7 linked regions of the Homo sapiens genome follow. The protein of the gene in region 6 purifies or fractionates together with the protein of the main gene of each other region. This does not show direct contact. Each region holds a gene or a part of one and is shown on either strand. Other genes may lie near its edges.

Region 1 (3,395 bases), on a different chromosome or scaffold from region 6:
GTAGCACATACTTGTCCAACTATTGACCTGGCCAATGCTTGCGGATCAGGGTTCAGAGCCAGGGAAACTGCCTGAAGTGCCTGCCTCACCTCTGCCCAATGGGCAGCTGTGGACACCATGGCCACTTCACCAGCATCCACTCTTCTTGACTGAAGGGAATCACCAGCCTTCCCATGACAGGGGCGGGTGCAGCTATGGGCAGATGACTCATTGCCCAGCAATGGAGGCTTCTGGAAGTTTCCTTGAGACACAAAAAGGCTTTTCTTCCTCTGGAATGTTCTAGGGTCTTGATATGCTGCCTGGAACTGTTACTGCCATCTTTGTACTAGCCTTGATGAAGCCAACACTGGAGATGATGGAGAGAATGCTTCCTTGGCGAGCTGTTGAACCAGGCCCTAATCAGGCCTTCCTGCCACGTGAGACTGAACTTTCTGGCCATCGAGGCCTGCCTGGGCTGGGATGTCTGTAGGAGGCATGTTCAGGCCAAACGATCGTGAAAATGTCCCAGTCAGAACCTGTATTTTGGGATGCAAAAAGCTAGGTGAGTGGAAAGAAGGTGGTCACAGATGGTCACATGCGACTTGGGCCACTGGACCTGGAGCTCTTTGAGGCTTGCTGTAGAGTCCAGGCTTGGAAACGCTGTCCCCACAGCCGATGAGGCAACTTCCCGTGTCATCTCCACACGTTCATCTCCTCCTGGCATTCAATATCCACCTACAGAAGTCACCTGGGATTCTCTTCCTTGTGATAAAAAAGAATCTCATCAGACACATCCCTGGGGCTGGGCACAGTGGCTCACACCTGTGATCCCAGCTCTTGGGGGCTGAGGCAGGAGCATGAGTTGAGTCCAGGAGTTTGGGACTAGCCTGGACAATATAGTGAGACCCCATCTCTACAAAAAATTTTAAACACTAGCTGGTTGTTGTGGTGCACACCCACAGTCCCAGCTACTTGGGAGGCTGAGGTGGGAGGATCACTTAAGCTGGATAGGTAGTGGTTGCAACAAGCCGTGATATGCCACTACACTCCAGCCTGGGTGACAGAGTGAGAGCCTATCTCAAAACACACACACACGTCCCTGGGATCTGCCATTGATTCATTTGCGGGACTAACCACTCTTCCTAAAATGCCTTGTTCAGAATCCAGTCAAAGCACAAAAATCCTACCTCAGCACTTAGGGCCGAAGGGACACCAGTGGAAAAGGCAGGACTGGTTTAGAGGCACATTTCCCAGCAGCAGCAGCTCAGTCACATGTGTTTGGTAACAACTCAGACACCTCTCTGCCTACAGCTGCTCTATGACAGGGGAAAGGAAAAGGAAGGAAAAGGAGTTTGCGATTCTCCGTTCCTCATTCACTCCACTTTTTATCAGAGATGCAGACTTGTCATAAAACTTTTTCCTCCATCTAAAGACATTTCAATCCCCAACGAGGATTCTGGTGGAAATTCCCTAAAGGGGACATTCAGAGTGGCGAATAGTGAACTTAGGGCTTCGGGTACAAAAGTACAACACCCTGCACTTAGTGGCTGGGTGACCCCAGGCAATTTTATTACTTTATCCCTGAACCTCAGTTGCCTCATCTATAAGATGGGGCTAATAATAGCACCCATTTCATAATTATGAAGATTAAATACATTAAGGAAAACACTAGTATGTCCCTAGTACCTGCTAAACACTCAACAAAAGTTAACTGTACATACTGATGTCTCAAACAGGGACGGAATGTTTAACACAGAAAACAGGAGGTTTTAGCACTCACTCGTTCTCCTGGCTCCCGAAATATGAGCTGCCCTGCCCCAGTTCATCCAAGCCCATCAATATAGTTGTCCTCGTCCTTAATCTCCACAGGTGTTCAATGTGAGCCAACTGTCAGATGGCTTTCATTTGCACAACTGAATAAACCATTTATGCCTAGTGTTCCATTACTGGAACGCTAAGCTTATGGGAGTTATTTATATCTTACTGCTCGAGGTCCTCACCAAGATCTGATTTTTTCACAAAAAAAATTTGTAATCTCCAGCATAAATGGAATAATCAAAGCAATTGTGGCAGTTTTGGGGGGACAAAACTCTAGAGTTTAATCTTCCAGCTTGACTGACTTGGAAGCGTTCCTGTCAATGTAAAAGATCTTGTTGGGGGCGGTGGAGAAGCCGAGGCCGGCTCCCCGGCTGTACTTCCAGCTCATGGCCCGGTCGTAGTCCCGCTGCAGATTCTGCTGCAGGCTGTCAGCCGCCTTCTTGCCGAGGGCCATGTTGGGCCTTGCAATCGTGCTGGCGGGGCGGCTGAACGAAGGGGACAGGTTTTTGAAGCCACCCATAAGTCTGAGAAATTTCAGTTTTTGGTCCTCGTTCTCAAAACCAGCAGTATCCCACTGGCCAAACTGGGTTCCCTGTGAGGAGAGGAAAAAGGTGGCTATTTTCCTTGAGTTCAAAGCCCTTTCCTTCCCTTGACCCCCACCCTCATCAGGGAGGGCCCAGCAGATTAGATGGCTGCTGTGTACCAGGCACAGTGCTAATAAGCTCAACAACGGATTATTCCGTTAATCCTAAAGACAGCCCTATGAGAAACACTGTTGTTATTCCCATTGCACAGAGGAGAAAATAGAGGTCTGCAGCTTAGCTGGAGACAGAAACCTAACTAGTGACCCCCAGAATTCCAGCCCAGGTCCAGCCAACACCACTGCCCACCTCTGCACAGAGCTGCCTTTCTGCCTTCCTCCTCCTTTCCTAACTCATGGCACACGGCACAGTGTGCCTCACTTCACAACAGCGCACTCCCCCCACCACCCTACACTAAGCATTTCCCCCCACCTCCCTACACAGTGCACCTCCCCTCCCCCACCTCCCTACACAGCACACTCCCCCACCACTCTACAGAGCACACTCCCCCCACGACCCTACACAGAGCACTCCCCCCACCTCCCTACACGGCGCACATGGCGCACCTCCTCCCACCACGCTACACAGCACACTCTCCCCCTACCATCCTACAAAGCGCACCTCCCCTAACCACGCTACACAGTGCACTCCCCCCACCACCCTACACATCGCACTCCCCCCACCTCCCTACACAGCACACTCCCCCACCTCCCTACATAGCACTTCCCCCACTCCCTATACAGCGCACCTCCCCCCACCTCCCTACACAGCGCACCTCACCCCACCATGCATCTCACAAGACAGCACACCTCCCCCACCTCCCCACAGGGCGCACCTCCCCTGCAACACAGGGCACCCCACAGCCCAGCAGCCGGGCGCACTCACCCAGCAGCCTAACGTTTGGGTGAATTGGAGGGTGGGAGAGGGCGAGTGGGAATCTGAAGTGTGCTTCTCAGAAGCACTGTTTTATGGCGGGAACGGGTGCGGGCCCACAGGGGTAAAAGGTCACACAGCCAA
Region 2 (3,500 bases), on a different chromosome or scaffold from region 6:
AGGATATGGCCCCTGCTTTCAGAGAGTTCACACTGGGTAAAAACTATGTTCACAAAACCACCACAGTGCAATCTACATGCCTGGCATGTAGCATGTGTTCAATACATTAGCTAATTCGATGAATAAAAGAAACGACTGAATGATGCACGATTCAAGTGTATATAAAGTGTGATGTGGTAGGACCTAAGCTTTCTATTTCTTTCTCATAAAGTGATTGTGACCATAAACACAGCAGGTGTTCAATAAATGTTTATTGTGTGAATAATAACTATGATGAATTATGTTAGCAATCATCAAGCACTGTGCCAAGTGCCTTTACCTACATTATCTCACTTATCTTTCCAACAAATACTATTAACAGCCCCTTTTTCAGAGCAGAACACAGAGCAGAGGGCAAAGTAAATAAACTTGCCCAAAGTCGCAGTTTGGAGCTGAAGTCCAAGCCACAGATGCCTCTCTGTTGGCACTTCAGAGACTGGAGTAGGTTTCTTTTTTCTTTCCAAAGCTCTGTTTTAGCCTCTTTGACAGGGAATAAATAATAAATGACAACAGAGCACTCTGCACCAGAAAGTACCAGGGCTCCAGGGTAGCATCAGTGTCGGGGGAAACGCCATCAGCTGGGAAATTACTCATACAGCTCCTCCTGCCAAAAGAGAATGAAGTCCTCACTGGGGACTGAGAGAGGAAGAACAATGATTCAGAATGAAAACCAAGCCCCTGAGAGCCAGTCTGAAATCTGTACTGACAGTTCCCTTGCAAAGTTTTTGAACAGGGGGTTTTCTCTCGTTCTAAAAGAACAGAATTGGATCTGAGCGCTAAAGTGGTTGAGGTTAGGTGTGTGTGTCCACAGTTTGGCATTGATTATATTTTTCTAATTTCCTTTTAGAAAATGCTCCTAACTAGAACCTTTTACAACCTAATATCCTGCTGGTTGTTATGGTAAGAAAAAATGTGTGTTCACAGCAGACATGCCAACTTAGCCCCAGACCTGCCGTGAGAGGCTGTTATCACAGCCATTTGCATTTCACTCAAAGGGACTGCTTTCATGAGGTTACTAAAGTATTTAACAAGGTTCATAAAACTGAAATTCATTTATGAAGGCCAGGATTGGACTGTTCCACCAACCCATTTTAACAAGACAGTGATTTCTACCTTGAGTGACAGCACTGTGCTTGCTAAGTTGGTTCTCTGGATTTCCGGCACGTTGGTGGTCAGCATTTCATCTCGGTAGGCACGTTCTGTGTACAACCTGTAACACTTCCCTGGGCCTGTTCTCCCAGCTCTGCCAGCTCGTTGCTTTGCCTGAGCCTAGAGGGGTGGGCATATAAAAGCAACATATCTGTTAAACACTGCTTAACAGCTTTACCCAGGATATCTGTTAAAAGGGGGACAATTAACAACTGGCAAAATCAGAAATGGGGTTGATTTCACTTCCTTTGGGACCATTTCCAAGACTACCAATGCTCTTATCTTCCCCTCTCCATACTCAGCACTTCGGGGAAGTTTGTTCGAGGGAGGCAATACAAGCAGGGTTAATGGAAGAAATATTATACAGATCTGAGACATATATCTTCAAAATAGTGTGGCGCAATATAAAAGAGAAAGCATAAAACAAGATGACAGAACACCATCCCCACAGTTATGACCAAAAATGTAAGTGAAATAAACATATTACGTCAATCATCCCAATGATGACTCTGCAGTCATTTTAAAAATTATGTTTGCAGGCCAAGCGTCGTGGCTTATGCCTATAATCCCAGCACTTTGGGAGGCCAAGGTGGGCAGATTGCATGAGCCCAGGAGTTCGAGATCAGCCAGGGCAATATGTTGAAACTTCATCTCTACAAAAAATACAAAAATTAGCTTGGTGTGGTGGCTCACGCCTGTAGTCCCAGTATTCAGGAGGCTCAGATGGGACGATCACCTGAGCCTGGGGAGGTCGAGGCTGGCTGCAGTAAGCCGTAATCACACCACTGCACTACAGCCTGGGCAACAACAAAGACTGATCCTGACTCAAAATAAAATAAAAAATAAAAATAAAAATCATGTTTGCAATGTTAAATGACAGAAGAAAATGTTCATTCGCATTAAATGCAAAATGCAAGTTACGAAACAATGTAAAATAATTTTAGTAAAAGTCTTTATATATCAACTACTAGAAGGAAATGACTAGGCGAAAAAAACCCTAAAATGTTAACAGTGGCTAACTCTGATAGTAGGCTTGCAGATGAGGTCTATTTTCTTTAGATTTTACCAAATATTGAACATGTATTATTCTAATAGGAAAATTAAATACTCAAAAAAATATACAAAACTGCATACTTACTTGACTACTAAAATTGCAACCATGAAAGAAATAAACATGAAAAAAGACTGGAATGAAAAACAGCAAAATAATAACAGTGGAGGTAGTAGGATGGTGGGTAAATTTTTTTCTTCTGTTTTTCAAAAATAATAAAACACTACTTCAAAAACACTGATTTTTTTTTAATTAAAAAAAATGTAGTTTAGCCATAGGTTGCTAGGAAACAATGAATAGCAATCTGAAGAGGGCCATTTTCTGACAAAACCATCTGTTGTTACAAACAGTACCAGGATTTACAAATTACTATGCCAGCTCCAAACCAAAGGATAGGTTATGAAAGGACAACTAACCACACAAATCCAGGCAGCAATCACACACAGTGGCTGGACTCTACAGCATTCTACACATGTCTCTCTCCAAATCAGGACAGGCATGTGTAACTAATTTTTTGATCACCGCCACCCTGACAAGTAGTATAGAGCATACAAGCTGGAGCCAGGCTACCCAGGTTCAAATCTTGGCTCCACTAGCTCTGTGATGTTAGGCAAATCACCTAACCCCTCTGTGCCTCAGGTTCCTCATCTGTGAAAATAATATCTACCACATAGGATCAATGCGAGAATGCACCAAGTCAATGCATGTATCTAGGACGTTAAGTACACTGTAAGTGTTAGCTATTATTGGGCCAGGCGCGGTGGCTTATGCCTGTAATCCCAGCACTTTGGAAGGCTGAGGCGGGTGGATCATGTGGTCAGGAGATGGAGACCATCCTGGCTAAGACAGTGAAACCCCATCTCTACCAAAAATACAAAAATTAGGTGGTCATGGCGGCATGCGCCTGTAGTCCCAGCTACTTGGGAGGCTGAGGCAGAGGAATCACTTGAACCCAGGAGGCCGAGGTTGCAGTGAGCTGAGATTGCACCACTGCACTCCAAACTGGGCGACAGAGCAAGGCCCCATCTCAAAAAACAAAACAAAACAAAAAGTGTTAGCTATTATTATTACTTAAGTTTCAAAATAAAAATAGCCTTAAGGCTTTCACAAATTATGAAAGTAATACATACCCACTGTAAAAGATTAAGACAACATATAAAAGTATAAAAGAAAATGCACATCATCTAGTAGCACCACCCATAAATAATCTTGGCTAACATTTAGACTACATGCTTTCAATCTTGGGCACAGCTCACTCACA
Region 3 (3,500 bases), on a different chromosome or scaffold from region 6:
CACCTGAGATTAGGAGTTCGAGACCAGTCTGGCCAACATGGTGAAACCCTGTCTCTACTGAAAAAACAAAAACATGGTGGTGCACACATGTAATCCCAGCTACTTGGGAGGTTGAGGCAGTGGAATTGCTTGAGACTGGGAGGCAAAGGTTGCAATGAGCCGAGATCCTGTCACTGTACTCCCGCCTGGGCAACAGAGAGAGACTCTGTCTCAAAACAAAACAAAACAAAGAAAGGATATTTATGTAGAGTAACTCTCCACAGGATACTTACTAATTCCAAGTGGTAAAAGAGTAACTTCACAAAGAAACAACCTAGCAGACACCACCATAACTAACTGATGGAAGTTAACGTGACTAGCCATAGGAAAAACCAGCACTTGTGCCTCCTAGGGTGCTTACTGAGGAAGCAACAGCATTGCTCTTTGGGATTCCTGCCAACAGCCCATAGTCTGATTCTAAGCATGAGGACATATTAGACAAACCAACTCAGAGGACAAAAAACTGGCCTGTATTAAAAAATGCTGGCTGGGCATGGTGACTCACACCTGTAATCCCAGCACTTTAGGAGGCTGAAGTGGGCAGATTACTTGAGCTCAGCAGTTTGAGACCAGCCTGGGCAACATGGTGAAACCCTGTCTCTACTAAAAATACAAAAATTAGCCGGGCGTGGTGGTGCATGCCTATAGTCCCAGGTACTCAGGAGGCTGAGGCTGCAGTGAGCTGAGATCGTGCCACTGTGCTCTAGCCTGGGCAACAGAGCAAGACCCTGTCTCAAAAATAAATAAATAAATAAATAAATAAAAATTAAAAATTACCTGGGAGACTTGTTAAAAACTGAAGATTCCCAAGCCCATCTCAGACCCAAGGAATCCTGTAATTTTCTAGATTCAGTATGACACTCAAAGTTTTAGGGAAAATGAGAAGGCTCAGGATTAGAAATTCCAGATTTAACTGCTTGGTGGATACTGGAATGAATTATCCTCTCTCAGTCTCTCTAACTCCTCCTCTGGCAAGGCTCAGGGCCCTAGCAGATTTGCCCAGGTGAAACTAATACTGAGATATTTTATTTTCATTTATTTATTATTATTTTTTATTTTTTAAGAGCAGAGGTTTAGTAGGCAAAAGAAAGCGAAAGGAAGGCCGGGTGCGGTGGCTCACGCCTGTAATCTCAGCACTTTGGGAGGCTGAGGTGGGTGGATCACGAGGTCAGGAGTTCGAGACAAGCCTGGCCAACATGGTGAAACCCCGTCTCTATTAAAAATACAAAAATTAGCTGGGCCTGGTGGCACGAGCCTGTAATCCCAGCTACTTGGGAGGCTGAGGCTGGAGAATCGCTTGAACCCAGGAGGTGGAGGTTGTAGTGAGCCAAGATCGTACCATTGCAACTCCAGCCTGGGCAACACAGCAAGACTCTGTCTAAAAAAAAAAAAAAGAAATTCTATAACATGGTGCTATGGGTTGAATTGTGGCCCCCTAAAAGATATGTTGAAGTCCTAACCACTGGTACCTGTCATATGACCTTATTTAGATATGGGAATTTTTTTTCAGATGTATTAAGGTTAAAATGACATCATTTGGATGTTCTTTTAATTTTTTGAGATAGGGTCTCACTCTGTCCATGCTGGGGTGAAGTGGTATGAAGATGGCCCACTGCAGCCTTAACCTCCTGGGTTCAAGCAACCCTTTCACCTCAGCCTCCTGAGTAGCTGGGACCACAGGTGTGCACCATCATGGCTGGCTGATTCTTTTGACTTTTTGTAGAGACAGGGTCTCACCATGTTGCCCAGGCTGGTCCTGAACTCCTAGGCTCAAGCAATCCTCCTGACTTGGCTTCCCAAAGTAATGGGATTATAGGCACCAGCCACTATGCTTGGCCTATTTGGGTGGATCCTAATCCAATATGACTGCTGTCCTATTAAGAAGACATAGAGAGAGAATGTCATGCGCTGTCAGAGCCAGAGACTGGTAATGATGCAGCTGCAAGCCAAGGAACACCAAGCGTCGACAGCCATCGCAAAGTAGTCAGAGGCAAGGAAGGAGTCCACCCAGAGTCTCAGAGAAGCATGGTCCTGCTGACACATTGATTTTGGACTTCCAGCCTCTAGAACTATGAAAGAGTAAATTTCTGTTGTTCTAAGCTGCCCAGTTGTGGTGCTTTGTCACAACAGTCCTAGGAAATTAATGTACCTGGCTACTTCTAGCAATTTTGGTTTTTAAAGTTACTTGACATACCATTTATTCCACGTTTACCTGAGGAAACAGCATTCTCAGCTTCTTGGTGCTCGTCTGGTGGAGAAGGAACTTTTGCAGTAGCTCTGAGATCCTGGCTTTCCTGCTTTTCATGATTCTGGAATTCAGTGGGATTACTTATTTTTATCTCTGAATGATTCTGCTACAAATTTAAAAAGGAAATAAAAGATTTCGATGATAAATAAGAATTGCTGCCTTCCAAAGATAAGTACCAAAGTGAGGGGGAAAAGGGGTTAAAGGAAGAAAAGTAGGAGAATGAGATTTTTGGTGGCAGATTTGGTTCTCTGCCTTATCAACTGTCACGAGAATGTAAATTTGAGAACAGGAGATACTAGGGCACATTAAGAGGAAAATAGAAATGGCAAGATTAGCTCTGTTAGCAAGGACAAATGAAGAAACCTAGACAGTCTACTGAGCAAGTGACTACATTGAGGCAGAAATTTAAATAATAATAAGTACTGCATTTATTCACTCCAAGAAAAGTAAAAACTAAGGCCCAGAATGTGGCAAGGCAAGAGTTAAAAAGAAAAGAACAAGTTTTCCTCTGCCTAGTAGCTCACTTTGAAGACAGTTAGAAGATAACGCTGTCCAAATAGCCAAGGCCAAAGGAATAAGCTCCAGACACCACCCTCCCCCCGACCCCTGGTTCCAGAGCAAGGTTGAAAGAAAAAAAAAAGAGAAATACAAGTTCTTTTAATGTTACTCTTTTCCCGGGCTTCTTAAGCATGATTAGCATGATTATGTTTTACAAATGTCTGTATTTAGCCAGTTCTTGTTTTTCTTTTAATGCAGCTACAAGGCCACTGGCTAAGTCACAAGTTATGTTACGCTATAGATTATGTAACCTGTTACTGTATGATTAATTGCTTTTATTTTGCTTCTGTAAAGCCACTTATAAAAACCCGCTCAGTCTTTGTTCAAGGCTCAGCTTTTAGATGTGAATCCTCCGAGCCGGTGCGTGCCTAAAATAAACAAATCCTCCTGTACTCCGTATTAGTCTCTCCGTTCCTCAGTTTACTGCAACAATATGAACATAGAAAAGAAAATTAAGACTGTGTTTCAGGGCTGGGCATGGTGGCTCACACCTGTAATCCTAGCACTTTGGGAGGCCGAGGTGGGTAGAGCACCAGAGGTCAGGAGTTCAAGATTAGCCCAGCCAACATGGTGAAATCTCGTCTCTACTAAAAATACAAAAATTAGTTGGGCGTGGTGGTGGCCACCTGTAATCTCAGCTACTCAGGAGGCAGAG
Region 4 (3,972 bases), on a different chromosome or scaffold from region 6:
TCTGCACTCCAGCCTGGGTGATGGAGATGCCATCTCTTAGAAAAAAGAGAAAAAAAAAAAAAAAAGGCAAATGATGCAATTGCCAGGATACAGGTATTTCCAATTTCTCTCCTGGAAACCCAATTTACTCCATGGGACTGGTGGTGCCTTGTGAACAACCCCAGTTTAAAATGACTTCTCCCCAGTAGTCAGAAGAACCAACATCAATAAACTCAGTTTTAACATCTATTTACCTAATTTCAAAGCAGCCTTCCTTTGCCAAGTGTTCCTAGAGCATTGTTTACAAAATATCACAAGAACACCTTAGGGCAACAACTATAAGAGGCCCCAACACCCCTTGTGAATTTTCTAAGTAGCAATTAATGCTATTAATACTGAGGATGATGATACATTAGGACCCCCTATCCCAATAAGACACCGTTTCCTTGTATTCAAATTCTCTCTTTAAATTCAGCATCCCCCTAAGGTTTGTTGAACAGTCTATCAAAACTATGCCATTTTCTCCTCAAATTCTAGGGAAGTTTCTCAAGCTAACAGTCTACTGTGAATGCAGCTGTGCTCAGTTTCATCTCAGGAAATGATGAACGACTTAAGATAATTGTCAGCTTGAGTCTTAGCAGATGTAGCCTATGAACCAAAATGGTCTTGATATACACTCCACCGTTCCCCTCAAGCTCACCAGAAAGGGTGCAGCCTCTTATCTAGGCAAAACAGGCCCTTCAAATTTTCACCGGAAACAAAAAGGTCAGCTTTCTCTCTGCCAGCGTCTCTTATGTAAAAGCTGCAGAAAAGTTCCTGAGGGCACTCAGGAAGGCAGCAGTGGTCCTAAAAGTTGTGTGCTCCTTAAGAGAATCTAACGCCCGATGATCTAAGGTTTCATCCTGAACCACCCCCCCAACTCTCCTCACCCCCACTGTCACTGGAAAAACTGTCTTCCACAAAACAGGTACCTGGTATCAAAAAGGCTGGGGACCGCTAAGCTAAAGTTTTTCTTTAAAAAAAAAAAAAAGAAAAGAAAAATTCTGTATCCAACTCAAGAATCAAATTCGGGGCAAAGGCCCAAACATCTGCACTTTTAACAAGACGGTGTCTGCCATTCTCTTCTTACCCCCTCAACCGAGTAAGGATCACTGCCCATCCTGTGTACCCGGGTTCCACTAACTTTATCTCCTGAGGAATGCCTCAGGAATGCTACAAGAATTGGCCTACATGAAAAAATATTTCAGTGCTACTTTACTATGGTAATATTTAAACAATCTATGCAATAAAAATCATCTTGAGCACAACATGCTAGAAAAAGTTTCTCTTGATGAACTGGTATGCCCATTTTATTAGATCGAAACTATAGACCAAGTTAACCCTAGTCCTTATTTCTGGAGTTTTATGTTTACTTCTACTGCTGTAAATACTCTCAAATCCTTTTTGGAAGCAGTCAAAATATAAATCCACAGTATTCAAAATCTTACCCTCCTTTTCCTTGCATTCATCTTTTGTTTCGATTCTTTGACAAAGGCATTATAGGATGGGACCTCTCCGGCGTCAATAGCTTGCTGAATGATATTCCTTATCCTGGGTTCCTCTGTGTACTGCACGCAAAGCACAGACTCCATGATCTGATCCATGTCACCCTTGAAGTCCAGATAGGCCTGCTTAATATCAGCCAGCTCTTCTTCCGAACCTTTGTATGTCTTTTCAAAAGCTTGAATGTCCTCTAAAGATATCTGATGATAAAGGAGATTTGCTTTAACTTTGGGAATTTTACTTTAAATAAAACGTACGTTAGTAAAACTAGAGTTGGGTGTTGAATTGCTGCAATACAACAGTTGCTTGAGTTGAAATTATTGAACCAGATTTTCTATGCCTAAGCTTCTCCGGAGTCCTCCTTTTTAAATCCAATCTTCATTAACTGCTAACTAGGGACCAGGGAAGGGAAATTTAAGTGAAATTTCCAAGAGTGAGAGGTGATCCGGAATCAGGACTTACATTTGGATATGTAAAATAAAGCGCATCCGGCAAAAAAAATAAATCGGCCCTTTTCAGTGCAACAATCACATTAACAGGAAATTTAAAGCCCGTTTCAGTAAGCGTGCGTGTATCTGTATTTCAAGGCCAAACTCAAAATTCCTAATTCCTACAAAATTAACACAAAATACAAGATCTTAGAGGCAGTCAATAAAGGTTTGTTGATTGAATGATGGTAACAGTCACAAAGAAACCTCCAGAGTCCTTTACCTTTTTAAAGAGTAGCCGCCAATACGCCTCCCAGTCTCGGTCTTGGGTGAGCACAGGAGAGTCCTCGTCCACTGTTCCCTGCTCATCGTACACTGCTCTCTGTTCTCTGTCACTGAGAACGGAATAGACTTTTCCCAGGATCTGAGGGCAAAGAGTATCCGTAAATCACCCCTGCTCCTCCCACCGAAACGGCGGCGCGAGAAATAAAGATCAGAAGGCGCCAAGCGGAGCTCAGCGCGCTCCCCCGGGGCGGGGCCCGGTAGCCAAAAGGCTAGGGGGAGGCCCGCGCAGCCGGTCGGCTTCGGGGCGGGACCCTGCATACCTGGAAGCGGCGGGTGGCGTCCTCCTTGTCGCCCTCACCCACCCGGTCCGGGTGTACCTGCAGGGACACCTTGTGGTAGCCTCGTCGGACCTCGCCGTCGGAGGCCTCGCGTCGCACGCCCAGCACCCGGTAAAGGTCGGCGGTGCCGAACACTTCCTCGCAAAGGTCCAGCAGCCCCATGCCGGGCGGAGATACGACCCCGGAGGAAGCAGCCGCTCCCAGCTGCGCCGGGTACAACCCAGGACTGCTTCTTTTTCGCGCCCAAAAAGCCCAGGGCGCCTGCGTCACAAGCACTGAAGGGGCGTGGCCACGCCGCGCATCCGCGCTTTACGGCGGCCGCAAAATGAGGTGTGGCGAGTCAGGCGCGGGCCCGGGTAAGTAACGCCGGCATGTGGAGTCACAGTCCCCGGCCGCGCGCAGGAGCTAGGTCTTCAGGGAAGTGATGTTGCTCGGGTCTCTCCTCCCCTTGCTCTGGAAATCTGGCGTCCGTCTTACCTTTTAGTGTCCAAGAACAACTTTTTCAAAAAGTTCATATATTAGCTTGAATTTACAAACTGCTGGCCTATTTTTTTAAGTAGAAAACGGCCAAACATCAGCATTCAGCAGTTACACATGGTTCAACTTAACAGATGTGTTTTTTCAAAAATGTTCTTGAAAGGAATAGGTAAAGCTGTAGACCCAAATAATTTTGCACCCCACTGGTTGGAAATGCTGGGGTACTTTCCCTCTAGCCCTGTAGGAAAAAACCCTATACTGAAACCCAAAAAGCACAAAACACGGGTCTTCCAAAAACTCTTACCTAATAGGACTTTCACCTTACACATTGGTGGAGAGAGATAACATGACCCAAGCCTCCGTCTTAATAACATAAACTGCTGAAGCAAAGGCTCTTTCTTTTAATACTCTGTGAAGTTCACAGCTGGGTTTGAACATGTTGGATCCCAGGTGGCAGCAGAGTGGGCTGGAGCAATCATCCAAGAGATGGTGAGAAACTTGGGCCTGGAGACCCAAAGCAAGGTTGAGGCTGGGGATAAAACTTTGTTAGTAGGGTAAACTCACAGAGGAAGTATGTGTATACATATCTTAAAGGATAAACAATGCTAAGTGAATACCCGAGTTGGCAGAAAATACCTTATCAAATATCCCCTCACTGATGTAGCATTTTTCAGAATCATTCTGCTCTGCCAATAAGTTTCTGCAAAGCCTCAAACTCTCCAGGATACATTAATATCTTTTAAACTTCCCAGAGTTGCCGTGATTTTCAAAGCATTTCTCTTTCCCAGATCCAAGATCAAACTCAGCTGAAGTCAGTTCCTCTCAACCTGCCCTGGCATCAAAGTCTCAAAGCAAGTGGGGGCCAACCAGCAACAACCCCAGGGGAGCTTTGACAACCACAGAATTTGAGATGGCTGGTAATC
Region 5 (4,131 bases), on a different chromosome or scaffold from region 6:
CAGTGAGAAAGCTTCCTTTACATTGATCCCACCATCCTTATTAACAAAATGAAATAGCGCCACAGAATTTTAGAGTTTTTCAATTTGGATGGCTCAAATGACTTTTCCCTCAATGTAACTCTGTGATCCTCCCAACAAAACAAAACAATTTCCTCCTGTACCACTTTTTAAAATCATTTCTAATCATCAGATCCTTGACTTGGTAGGAAAGAAAACAATGAACATATGCTCTAAAGCTTATTATTATATTGCAGTAACAGTAAAAGAAGTAAGTTCCATAAATAATTGCAACTATCTTTTGTACATCCATTTTTCAAATGAGATTTCTATCAAAAAATAAAAATATTTTTCTCAAGCAATCAACTTCAACTTTTAAACTATTTTTTTCTTACATCTTAAAATTTACCTTTGAAAGAGTTCACGGTATGCCACCCAAAAATATGTCACTCTGCCATAAGGATTATTTTGAGCTGAAGGCAATCGAGAAGAAGCAGACATAAGAAAAACTCCGCCTTCCCCTGCTTTACCAGAAAGGGAAGGACTATTCTTAACAAGAGAAACCACTCTAGACTCTTAATAGAGACAGCACCAGGGGAACCTACATAACCAACCTTGCTAAAAGAACACATATCTTCCATTAGTTTCCCCACATATACCTTCCCACAATTTACTGCACCTACAAGTTCAAAGTCCTTTTCCTTTGTCTTGTCATTTTTTAAATAAATTCATTGTTCTTTATTAAGATGCCACATAAGCCCCATGTTTGAGTTACTATCGAGTTCTCCCCTATGTATGCATGATGCATGTCTTAATAAGCTTATGTTTTTCTCTTGTTAATATGTCTTTTATCAGTCTAATTTGCAGGGTCCCAGCCAAGGAACCTAAGCTGGGTAGAAGAAAAAGCATTTTCCTAGGGAAAAACAAAACAAAACAAAAAAGGGGGGAAGAGGTAGACAGAGGGAAGAGGAAAGAGTTGAATTTGGTACAGACCTGAATCTTTTATCTACATATGATACAATTAAGAATGTGAAGTTAAAACAGTAATAAGTACTTAAATGTACTCAGAAACGTTTCTCCCTTTTTTGGGCAAATAATCTTTTTTAAAAAAAATAAGAAAAGCTACCAGCTTACCCTTTACTTTTAGAGACCAAACCAAGAGACTGACTGAGTCGATGAATAAAGGCTCTTTCAGTACTGGTCAAAGAAGAAGGAAATTCCATTTCTACACGGAAAAAAAACAAAGTAGTAAAATTTGTAGATAGGCAATTTTCTCTCAAGTAAAACACACAGATACAAAATATGAAAAACATACATAGACAATCAAATTTATTATACTTTATTTGAGGTTAACTTTATATTTCATATTCTATTTATGTAAATTAATAAAATTAAGATATTTTATTAATTCAATAACTACTGAATGTCTATCAGAATTCTGATATTAATAAAAAGACAGCTATGTATTAAACCTAAATGTGATAAAGGCCTCTGATATTCACCAAAAACGACTCCTCTTACTTGTTCTGGAATTTTGAGTTGGTATAATGACTGAACATATTTAACTTGGTCCCTACTTGTTTAGTTAACAAAATGTTTATTTTCTTCAATGATGAGATATGTTCAAATATTATGAATTCTCAACATGAAACTCCATTGTCTTTGCTTTCAAAACTGTACAGAATTCGTATTTCACTATTTCAGAGGGATTTGTTATATATTGCTGAGGCTTTCTCTTTTTTTAATGTGAATTTAGAATCTCTCTGTCTAGAACATTCCCCGTTTTGGACTATAAGATTCCAGAGTAAGAGGTCCCCTAACTAAGCCAGCAGGTCCGAATGAGCCCTCAACAGACTGCACAGGTCACCGCAGGTCAGTTGCTGGTTCTGCATTATATGACCCAAGACAAGTGGCTATCTAACCTCAAGAGGTGTGGAAGATGCTTCGTGTGCCAAACAAGTTTAATTTAAGTGGGTAGCGTGATGCTTCAGGGTCCAAACGTATTGCTGGTGCATTTATTTATATGTTTGATTTCTTTCTGCTCTTCTACATCTGTAGCTTAAACGTGCCACAATTAGGTGACACCCCCTTAAAAAGGGTTAGGGCTAACCAATATCTGAAACACGGTGGCTTAACCGCCCAAGGCTGCTGAAAGACGCGGGGGAAAAACACTTTCAGCTAGGGAGCAAAGTGCCCATAACCCCATTGATCCGCAGAGCACCTCGCATTCCACCGCAGGGCCAACAGCCGCGTTCCAGACCCGGGTGCCGCCGCTGAGGCCCGCCCCGGACGGTGGCCCGGGTCTTCCCTCCCTCTTCGGAGGCACCCCCATCACTCGGTGGGCCGCCGTTTGGGGGGCGCTGGGGTGAGGGGGGTATCCTGACTGCCAGCATGGTCCCTGTCCGGAACCTCACCTCTCTGGTCCCCGTATCGGAAGCGCTCCAGCGCGATATTGACTGCGATCTTCACCTCCTCATCAATGCGAATGTCCTTCAGCCCCTTGGCCCGGCCGCCGCCCCCAGGGCCACAAGGCGAGGGGCCGCCGCCTCCGCCACCGCCAGGAGCCGGCTGCCGCGGGGAGACGCTGCTCGGCCTGGACATTGCCCTGAAGAGATGGTCTCTCCGCACGGGAGCGGCCAGGCCTGCTAGCTGACAGCCAATGACAAAGACCGTGGGAATCCGGGGCCACTACCGGGAAGCTCCGGAGACGGCCTGTGTTGGGCTGAGGTCACCAGAAAGGCCTCAGTCACCGCCACAGCAGAAGTGAAGCCTGCGCCATTGATATCACGGCCAGGCGAGGAGCGCGGGCGTAATGACGTCACCAGGGCCGGCGCCCGTGACCTCAGCGCGGCCGCCGCTGCGCGCCTAAAGGAGGCTGTCTGCGGAGCTATGGTGCGGTTCTCTTCCCGCGCCGCCCACCAAGGGTCGCTCCTCATCTTCTTATTCACTCACTTGCTACTTCGTTTAGTCCTTCATTAATTCCTGCAGTAAGCATGTATGGGCTTCTACTGTGGACCTGGCATTATGCCACGCCTTCGATGTACATTGGAGAACCAGAGAGCCAAGGTTCCTACCTTCATGGAGTTTATATTTTAGTGGGAGGAGGGTTGCCAGATTTAGCAAATAAAAATACAGAATGCTTAATAATTTGCATTTCAGATAAACGAATAATTTTTAGTGTATATATTTCCCATGCAATATTTGGAAAAATATCATAAAAAATACATATACTAAAGAATGAGCCACTGTTGTGTGTCTTGCATTCTTCCCTTTTCTGAATGGGAGATTTTAATGCAAGTATGCCACCCTTGCTCTATCACGCTACACAGGGTAGCTGAGTGGGGGCAGGTATGTAGTACATATTTACATAGTTCATGAGTTACCTGGCAATGAGGATATACATCTGGATCTAATAAAGAGGACTGTGTATCAACAACAGATCCTGGATGCAGTGACTAGATAGAATTCCAGGTGTCTGGGGAGGGTATATGTGTATTCTGTGTGTGGTAAGAAGGGGGCGGAATATTTGGTGACAAGAAGTATCTTTTCTTCCTAGGCATTATATTTCCCAACTCTCCTGCAGTTAGCTGGGGGCCACATGGCTGAGTTCCGGCCATTGGAATGTTGCTGGAACTGATGTATACCACTTCCAGGATTGGTCTATAACACCTTCCTTGAATCTTCCCTTCTCTGTCTTTCCTGGTCTTCTGGAAGTTCTTAGACAACGGTGGAACCACTAGATAGATAACAGGTTCCCGATTCCCTGAACGAGTGTGATAGAGTGTCCTCACCAACCCACATTGGAATATGACATGGGTAAGAAATAATTCTTAGTTGTGGTAAACTGCTGAGATTTGGGAAGATTTTTTTTTGTAACATTATGGTAAATTGTTGAATTCATCAAAGGTATGGCCTTTGATGAATCACACATTCCTCTGTTCACACCCTTGTATTCTTCCTTCCCACATGGACTCTGTCTTTGGCTATGTAACTTGCTTTGGCCATTGGGACATCAGCAAATACGAGATAAGCAGGGGCTTGAAAGGTGTTTGTGCATTAAGGCTTAGCCTGTTTTGCTGCTGAGAATTCTTCTTCCACAAAGTAAAGAAGCTTAGGCTAGCCCACTGACAACTA
Region 6 (3,500 bases):
AAAGATTACCTCTACATACGAAATGCAATGCTTACATCATCTCTGTATTTTGACTTGTGAATCACCACGGCTTTGGAAGGAACAGTGGATTCTGGTTTCCGGATGTTAAACTCAGGCTTTGGTCTGGTCTGTTCTTGAAGATTTTTCCACTCATCTAAAGTCATCTCTTGAACTTGGGTTTCTTCTTCTACCTCCAACTCAGGAACTCTATAAAGAGATATATAATCATAAAGAATACTTTTTGATGGTACTAAAATGTCTACTTTATAAAGAAAAAGTTATAACCATTAATTCAACATATTTTTGTGGTACTGCATTTCAAATGCAAATAAGGTAAGGAAATCTTTGACTCACAAGCTTCCATATTTCATTTTCAACATTTTATGTCATCACTGCCAACAGAAGATACTTCCTATCTGTGTTCAAATCAATCTTTGAAAAATGGGAACATCACCATCCTGATGACATTAACATCACACTTCACCACTGGCACTCCCTTCCAGACAGCATGACAGACAAAATGAGGTAATTATGGACAATGGGTTGAAATAAAATACAGGAAACCATAAACAAGTTTTAAAGCAGTGGCTCATGAATGCATACTTTTGCAAATATCCTCTTTAATGAGTTTTAAAAAGAAAACAAAAGACAGAAATATAGATTGAGAGCAAAGAATTCAGAGTCCAGAAATAAACCCTCACATTTACGGTCAACTGATTTTTTTTTTCCAACCGTGGTGCCAAAGACAATTCAATGGAGAATGAAAAGTATTTTCAACAAACGGTGCTTGGGCAACTGGATATCCACACACACCAAAAGAAAGAATGAAGTTAGACCTACCTCACACCATAAATACAAGAGCTAAAATATAAAACTCTTAGCAGAAAACCTAGGCAGAAACTTTCTTAACCCTGGACTGGGCAATGGTTTCTTCCACATGACACCAAAAAAACAAGCAACAAAAGTACATACATTGAACATCATCAGATACTTTTATACTACAAAGGACACCATCAAGAAAGTAAAAAGACAGTCCACAAAATGGGATAAAATATTTACAAATAATATATCTCACAAGGGACTTGTATCTAGAATACATAAAGAATTCTTTATGAACAGCCAAGCGTGGTGGCTCATGCCGATAGTCCTAGCTACTCAGGGGGCTGAGGTGGGAGGATCGCTTGAGGCCAGGCATCTGAGGCTGCAGTGAGCTATGATCACACGTGTGAATGGCCACTGTGTTCCACCTTGGGCAACAGAATGAGACACTGTCTCTTTAAAAAAAAAAAAAAGAATGCTTTATGAATTCTAGATACAAGTCCTCTTTAGTTGAGACAAATGACCACCCTCCCCCCAAAAAAGGCAAGGATCTGAGTGAACATTTTTCCAGAGAAGATATACAAATAGGCAGTAAGATGTTGCACATCATTAGCTATTAGAGAAAGACAAGTCAAAACCACAGAGCTGCACCAGTCCACACCCAGTGGGATGGTTAGAACCAAAACGACATTTGACAAGCGTTGGGGAGGATGTGGAGAAACTGGAACCCACATACACTGCCAGTGGGAATGTGAAATGGTGTAGCCTCTTTGGAAAGCAGTCTGGCGGTTCCTCAAAAATCTAAGCTGAGTTAGCCTCTGACCCGGAAATTTCACTCCTGGGTTTATACCCAAGAGAAATGAAAACACACATCCACATGAAAACTTAAACCCAAGTGTTCACTGCAGTGCTATTCATAATAGCCAAAAAGTGGACACAACCTAAATGTCTATTAACTAATGAGTGGATAAACCAAATATGGCACATTTTTTGGAATATTATCTGGCAATAAAAAGAAACAAAGTATTAATACACATTACGACATGAACAAACCTTGAAAAAATGATGCAAGTGAAATAAACCAGGCAGAAAAGACTTCTGTGTATGATTCCATTTACATGAAATATTCAGAGGAGCCAGATTCACACAGACAGGAGGCAGGTCAGTGGTGGCCAGGGCTGCAGGGAGGGAGGATAGGGAGTGACTGCTGAATGGGCATGGGGTTTCCTTTTGGGATGATAACAACCTTCTGGAGCCAGATCATGGTGATGGTTGCATAACACTCTGAATGTACTAAATGCCACTGAATTGTACACTTTAAAAGGATTAAAATCGTAGATTTGAAAATCATCACAAAAATACACACAAAAAAAGAAAAACAGAAATGAAGACTGGCACATGCTACAACATGAATGAAGCTGAAAACTTGATGCTAATAGTTAAAATAAGCCAGGTGCAAAAGGAACATTGAACGATTCCACTTAGATGAGGCACCTAGAATAGGCAAATTCATAAACACGAGTAAAATAGAGATTACTACATGCTGAGGAGAAATGGGGAGTTAGTGTTAAATGGATATAGAGTTTCTGTTTGTGATGAAAAAGTTCTACAAGGCCAGGCACAGTGGCTCAAGCCTGTAATCCTAGCACTTTGGGAGGCTGAGGCAGGCGGATCATGAGGTCAGGAGTTCGAGACCAGCCTGGCCAATACGGTGAAACCCCGTCTCTACTAAAAAATACCAGAAAAATTAGCCGGGTGTAGTGGAATGTGCCTGTAGTCCCAGCTACTCAGGAGGCTGAGGCAGGAGAATCGCTTGAACCCGGGAGGTGGAGGTTGCAGTGAGCCGAGATCGCACCACTGCACTCCAGCCTGGACAACAGAGTGAGATTCCATCTCAAAAAAAAAAAAAAAGTTCTAGAGATGGATGGTGGTGATGGTTACACACAATATGAATGTTACTGATGCCATTAAATTATATATATTAAAATGGTAAAAATGGCAATTTTTATGTTATTTTTACTGCAATTTTAAAAAATTAATAATGTAACATACCCCAAACCATCCATCCATGCATTCAGTCGTTTACTCATTTATTTGTTTGATACAGGCTGGGTTTCACTCTGTTGGCCAGGCTGGAGTACAGTGGCATGATGATGGCTCACCATACCTTCAACCTCCTGAGCCCAAGGATCCTCCCACCTCAGCTTCCTGAGAGTAGCTGGGACTACAGGTACGAGCCATCAGGCCCAGCTAATTTTTACAACCATTTTGTAGAGACGGGGTCTCTCCATGTAGCCCATGCTGGTCTTGAACTCCTGGCCTCAAGCTATCCTCCTGCCTCTGCCTCCCAAAGTGTTGGGATTACAGATCTGAACCACCACACCTGGCCTATATACTTAGAGATTTGAGTGCTATAGTACGAGAATTATATCTCAAAAGTGTTTAAGGGGAAAAAACAGGCCGGGCGCGGTGGCTCACACCTATAATCCCAGCACTTTGGGAGGCCGAGGCAGGTGGATCATGAGGTCAGGTGTTCAAGACCAGCCTGACCAACATGGTGAAACCCCGTCTCTACTAAAAATACAAAAATTAGCTGGGTGTGGTGGCACACGCCTGTAATCCCTGTAATCCCAGCTACTCGGGAGGCTGAAGCAGGAGAATTGCTTGAACCCGGGAGGCGG
Region 7 (3,500 bases), on a different chromosome or scaffold from region 6:
TTTCAGTAATTTTTAAGTTTGTTTTGAATCATAACATTTATCTAACATAAAATTTCTATCATAAAAATGTATAAGGGCTCTCTCCTAAGTCTGAGCTTTTTTTTTTTTTAAATTAGAAATTGATTTGACTCACCTAACATTTGGAGGTCGGTAGCATGAAAAGATACTGTTTCATCCATGTGTTGAAGAAGCCGACCTGGTGTGCACACGAGTATATTTATGTTGTTGATCCTCTCAGCTTCGTGTTTTAGATCCTGAAAACAGTTATTTATTTTGATTACACAGACACATCACTCTCAGCAGCCTGTGTACCAAAGCTATAAAAGCCATCTGCATGGGCATTTCATCACAACATTTTAGATACTCTTGGAAATAAACATAACTTTTCCCTTGTATTTCTGAACCATATCCACATTTCTGGGCTAAATAAAAGTCTTTACAGGAAGACATAAGGAGCTCAGAGTTCTAAATTCTTATTCATACCCAGGATTTTGAGGCTAAGAAAAAAAAATAATCAAATGAATACTCCAAGTCAGGATTTCCTATTTGGATCAGAACTGACATAAACTGGAATCACTCTCATTCTTTAATTCAGGACCCAGGGACATTGAACAGACTCTGACACCGCTCAAGGACTGTACTTTGTGAACTGAAAAAAGCCGAGGTTCTCTCCTTGATACAAGAACCACTTCTCACAGTCCTGGAGGCGGTGGGAAAAAACAGAATGTTGTTAATTGTTAAAGTTAGGCAACAGGTACGTAAGGGTTTGTGATGCTATTCTTTCTTCTTTTGTGCATGTTTGCATAAAAATTGAAGTATTTATCCTCACAGTCTAGTGGAGATTCTAGCAGATAGAGGCATTCTAGATGTGCTATAAGATAGAACAAAAGTGAGCAGCAGGTCTTATCTTGACCTACTATAAACATTCCTCTAAAGAGTCTACCTTCCTTTCTTACGCTGCTGATGTAGCAATCCTCTGAATTATTCAGCCTCTTAGATAGATACCTTATTAAAAGGTACTAGTTCATATATGGAAATATCTTTCCCAATGAATATCAACAAATAACTTTACAGGATTAGAGTAAATATGTCTTAGAGAGGCTAATCAATTCAGATTCCCCGACAAAAAAAAATGGACTTTCTGGGCCTGCAAAATTGGCAACCAGATCGTAGATAGCAGCGACCACACCAAGTGCTACTATCCCATGAGGCCCTGGTCTAGGTCAGTCTGTTTAGATGAAGTCTCTGCTGCCTCCCTGTCATCGGCCACAGTACTCCAGTATAGGTTACAGAAGGAAAGGAAGGACATAGACAAAAGGACAAACCTTTCCACCAATGATGAGACCAGCTGAGAAGTCATGATTCTTTCCTACTTTTCGGAGAACCTCAAAGGTCTGATAGGCCAGTTCTCTCGTAGGTGATATTATGAGAACCCCCAGCCCATCTGTTGAAGTCCATTGCAGACGATATAAGGCTTCCAGCACCTCAAAAAGACAGCAAATTCATGTTCAGTAAGTCATCAGAAGTCAGCTTTTTGACCTGCATCTCAACCTTGCCCCTCCAAATCAAAGGGATCTTCCAAGCAGAAGGCATACCACTCAAGTTTTATCCAGTCCAAAGTAAATGATTTTGTTTATCTTCCATCAGAACCATCCACCCCCAACTCAGAGGAAAGGGAAAAGAAACCCCACGGTAGTTCAGCTGCTGCCAGAGCCATGCCATCAGGAAACTGGCTATCAGTGAAAGGTATGTACAACCCAAAGACCTTTACAACACACTTAAGAATAATATTTATCATTTTCTAAATAACCACACTAAAACTTTTGGCTGGGCGCAGTGGCTCACGCCTGATCCCAGAACTTTGGAGGAGGAGGCGGGTGCATCACTTGAGGTCAGGAGTTCAAGACCAGCCTGACCAATATGATGAAACCCCGTATTTACCAAAAATACAAAAATCAGCTTGGCGTGGTAGCCCACATCTGTAATCTCAGCTACTTGGGAGGCTGAGGCAGAAAGAATCGCTTGAACCTGGGAGGCAGAGGTTGCAGTGAGCCAAGATTGCACCACTGCACTCCAGCCTGGGCAACACAGCATGACTTCATCTCAAAAAAAAATAAAAATAAGTAAATAAACTTTCACCCATGTAGCTGCTGTAGTTATATAGTAACTGAATTATCTAGCTATAGGGAGCCTTTTTTTTTAAGGGGGCAAAAACACACTAGGATTTAAGAGAAAAGTGGTTTTTGCAATATTTGGAACAAAAACTAAAATGAGATTTTTCTGGGTCATTTTATAGGAATGAAAAATTAGGAGACCAACGTAACAGAGATGGAAGTGAAAGCCTAAGAAGCTCTACTGTTTTGCTGCCATAAAAGACCGATAGCAATGTCCCAGAAAATTCTCAACAAATGCCTAAAGCTCCTTAAACTGAGCATATTTCAGCTTTATCCTAAACAAGGTGGCAAGTATAAATGCCACTGGCAGGCTCACAAGGGTGAGAGCAGAAACTGTCTCCCACCAGTCCTACTGCAGCACAGAACCACTTTAACCTGCCATACTGGAGCACTCCACTTCCATCAAGAATGTAATGACTTGTCAAGGCACAATAGTTCATTCATTCAGTAAGTTATTGAGTGCCTGCCACATGCAAGGCACTGTGCTAGAACCTGGGGAAAATGGTGAGAACAAGACACACATGTGGCTCCTGTTTGATGAAGCTCGCATTCTAGCCAATCTATCATGAAATCTAACATGAAAACATCTCTTTATATAATCTGCATCTGGGCACAGAATGTTATAAAATTGTATAACAGACAGTCTGACCCAATGACAATGTACTTACTGGAACAAGAAAAGCCAGAGTCTTGCCAGATCCAGTTTTGGCCGCTCCAAGTACATCTTTACCTTGCAAAGCCAATCCAATGGTCTGCTTCTGTATCTCAGTCACCAAACGGTACTGAGCTTCTTGCAAACCTGGCAACATGGAGGGAAGAATTATACTTTAGAAGATCCCTGTAGGATGGTATTATAGGCTAAGTGAGTTGTGTCCCCCAAAATTCCTATGTTGAAGCCCTAATGCCTCGTACCTCAGAACATAACTATACTTGGAGACAGGGCCTTTAAAGAGGTTGATTAAGTTAGAGCCCCATAGGGGTGGACTCTGATCCAACACAAACGGTGTCTTTATGAGAAGAAACTTGAACAAAGAGACACCAAGGGTCCACATGCACAGAGGGAAAACCATGTGAAGAGAGACAAGTTATTCTGTGATCCACCTACTCCACTCCTGGGTATAATCCAAAGGGTTTATTAATAAAACCACTACTTTGAAAAGTATTTGTGCTCACATGTTCATTGCAGCATTATTCACAGAAGCCAAGATATGAAATCAACCTAAGTGTCCATGAATGAGTAAAGAAAATATATGTTATATACATACACATACACACACACACACACACACACACACACACACACACAAATGGAATATGACTCAGCCT

The links.
Region 1: the proteins of HABP4 (region 6) and KNOP1 purify together in Homo sapiens (affinity purification with mass spectrometry, with the first as the bait; one large-scale study listed by BioGRID). This does not show direct contact.
Region 2: the proteins of HABP4 (region 6) and DHX8 purify together in Homo sapiens (affinity purification with mass spectrometry, with the first as the bait; one large-scale study listed by BioGRID). This does not show direct contact.
Region 3: the proteins of HABP4 (region 6) and NUSAP1 purify together in Homo sapiens (affinity purification with mass spectrometry, with the first as the bait; one large-scale study listed by BioGRID). This does not show direct contact.
Region 4: the proteins of HABP4 (region 6) and DNAJC9 purify together in Homo sapiens (affinity purification with mass spectrometry, with the first as the bait; one large-scale study listed by BioGRID). This does not show direct contact.
Region 5: the proteins of HABP4 (region 6) and YTHDC2 purify together in Homo sapiens (affinity purification with mass spectrometry, with the first as the bait; one large-scale study listed by BioGRID). This does not show direct contact.
Region 7: the proteins of HABP4 (region 6) and DDX10 purify together in Homo sapiens (affinity purification with mass spectrometry, with the first as the bait; one large-scale study listed by BioGRID). This does not show direct contact.

The regions. Positions count from the first base shown.
Region 1 is NC_000016.10:19,704,833-19,708,227, forward strand, and holds part of KNOP1 (lysine-rich nucleolar protein 1), read right to left. Parts: intron 2,390-3,395; coding exon 2,078-2,389; 3' UTR 1-2,077.
Region 2 is NC_000017.11:43,514,975-43,518,474, reverse strand, and holds part of DHX8 (ATP-dependent RNA helicase DHX8), read right to left. Parts: intron 1,309-3,500; coding exon 1,153-1,308; intron 644-1,152; exon of another isoform or gene 413-643; intron 1-412.
Region 3 is NC_000015.10:41,349,881-41,353,380, reverse strand, and holds part of NUSAP1 (nucleolar and spindle-associated protein 1), read right to left. Parts: intron 2,394-3,500; coding exon 2,252-2,393; coding exon of another isoform or gene 2,234-2,251; intron 1-2,233. UniProt on the Homo sapiens protein: Microtubule-associated protein with the capacity to bundle and stabilize microtubules. May associate with chromosomes and promote the organization of mitotic spindle microtubules around them.
Region 4 is NC_000010.11:73,244,456-73,248,427, forward strand, and holds the start of DNAJC9 (dnaJ homolog subfamily C member 9), read right to left. Parts: upstream 2,801-3,972; 5' UTR 2,735-2,800; coding exon 2,555-2,734; intron 2,374-2,554; coding exon 2,233-2,373; intron 1,722-2,232; coding exon 1,467-1,721; intron 50-1,466; exon of another isoform or gene 1-49.
Region 5 is NC_000005.10:113,512,363-113,516,493, reverse strand, and holds the start of YTHDC2 (3'-5' RNA helicase YTHDC2), read right to left. Parts: upstream 2,801-4,131; 5' UTR 2,599-2,800; coding exon 2,412-2,598; intron 1,224-2,411; exon of another isoform or gene 1,223-1,223; coding exon 1,132-1,222; intron 1-1,131. UniProt on the Homo sapiens protein: 3'-5' RNA helicase that plays a key role in the male and female germline by promoting transition from mitotic to meiotic divisions in stem cells.
Region 6 is NC_000009.12:96,481,169-96,484,668, reverse strand, and holds part of HABP4 (intracellular hyaluronan-binding protein 4), read right to left. Parts: intron 208-3,500; coding exon 36-207; coding exon of another isoform or gene 12-35; exon of another isoform or gene 10-11; intron 1-9. UniProt on the Homo sapiens protein: Ribosome-binding protein that promotes ribosome hibernation, a process during which ribosomes are stabilized in an inactive state and preserved from proteasomal degradation.
Region 7 is NC_000011.10:108,675,069-108,678,568, reverse strand, and holds part of DDX10 (probable ATP-dependent RNA helicase DDX10), read right to left. Parts: intron 2,974-3,500; coding exon 2,843-2,973; intron 1,485-2,842; coding exon 1,326-1,484; intron 255-1,325; coding exon 134-254; intron 1-133. UniProt on the Homo sapiens protein: Putative ATP-dependent RNA helicase that plays various role in innate immunity or inflammation. Plays a role in the enhancement of AIM2-induced inflammasome activation by interacting with AIM2 and stabilizing its protein level.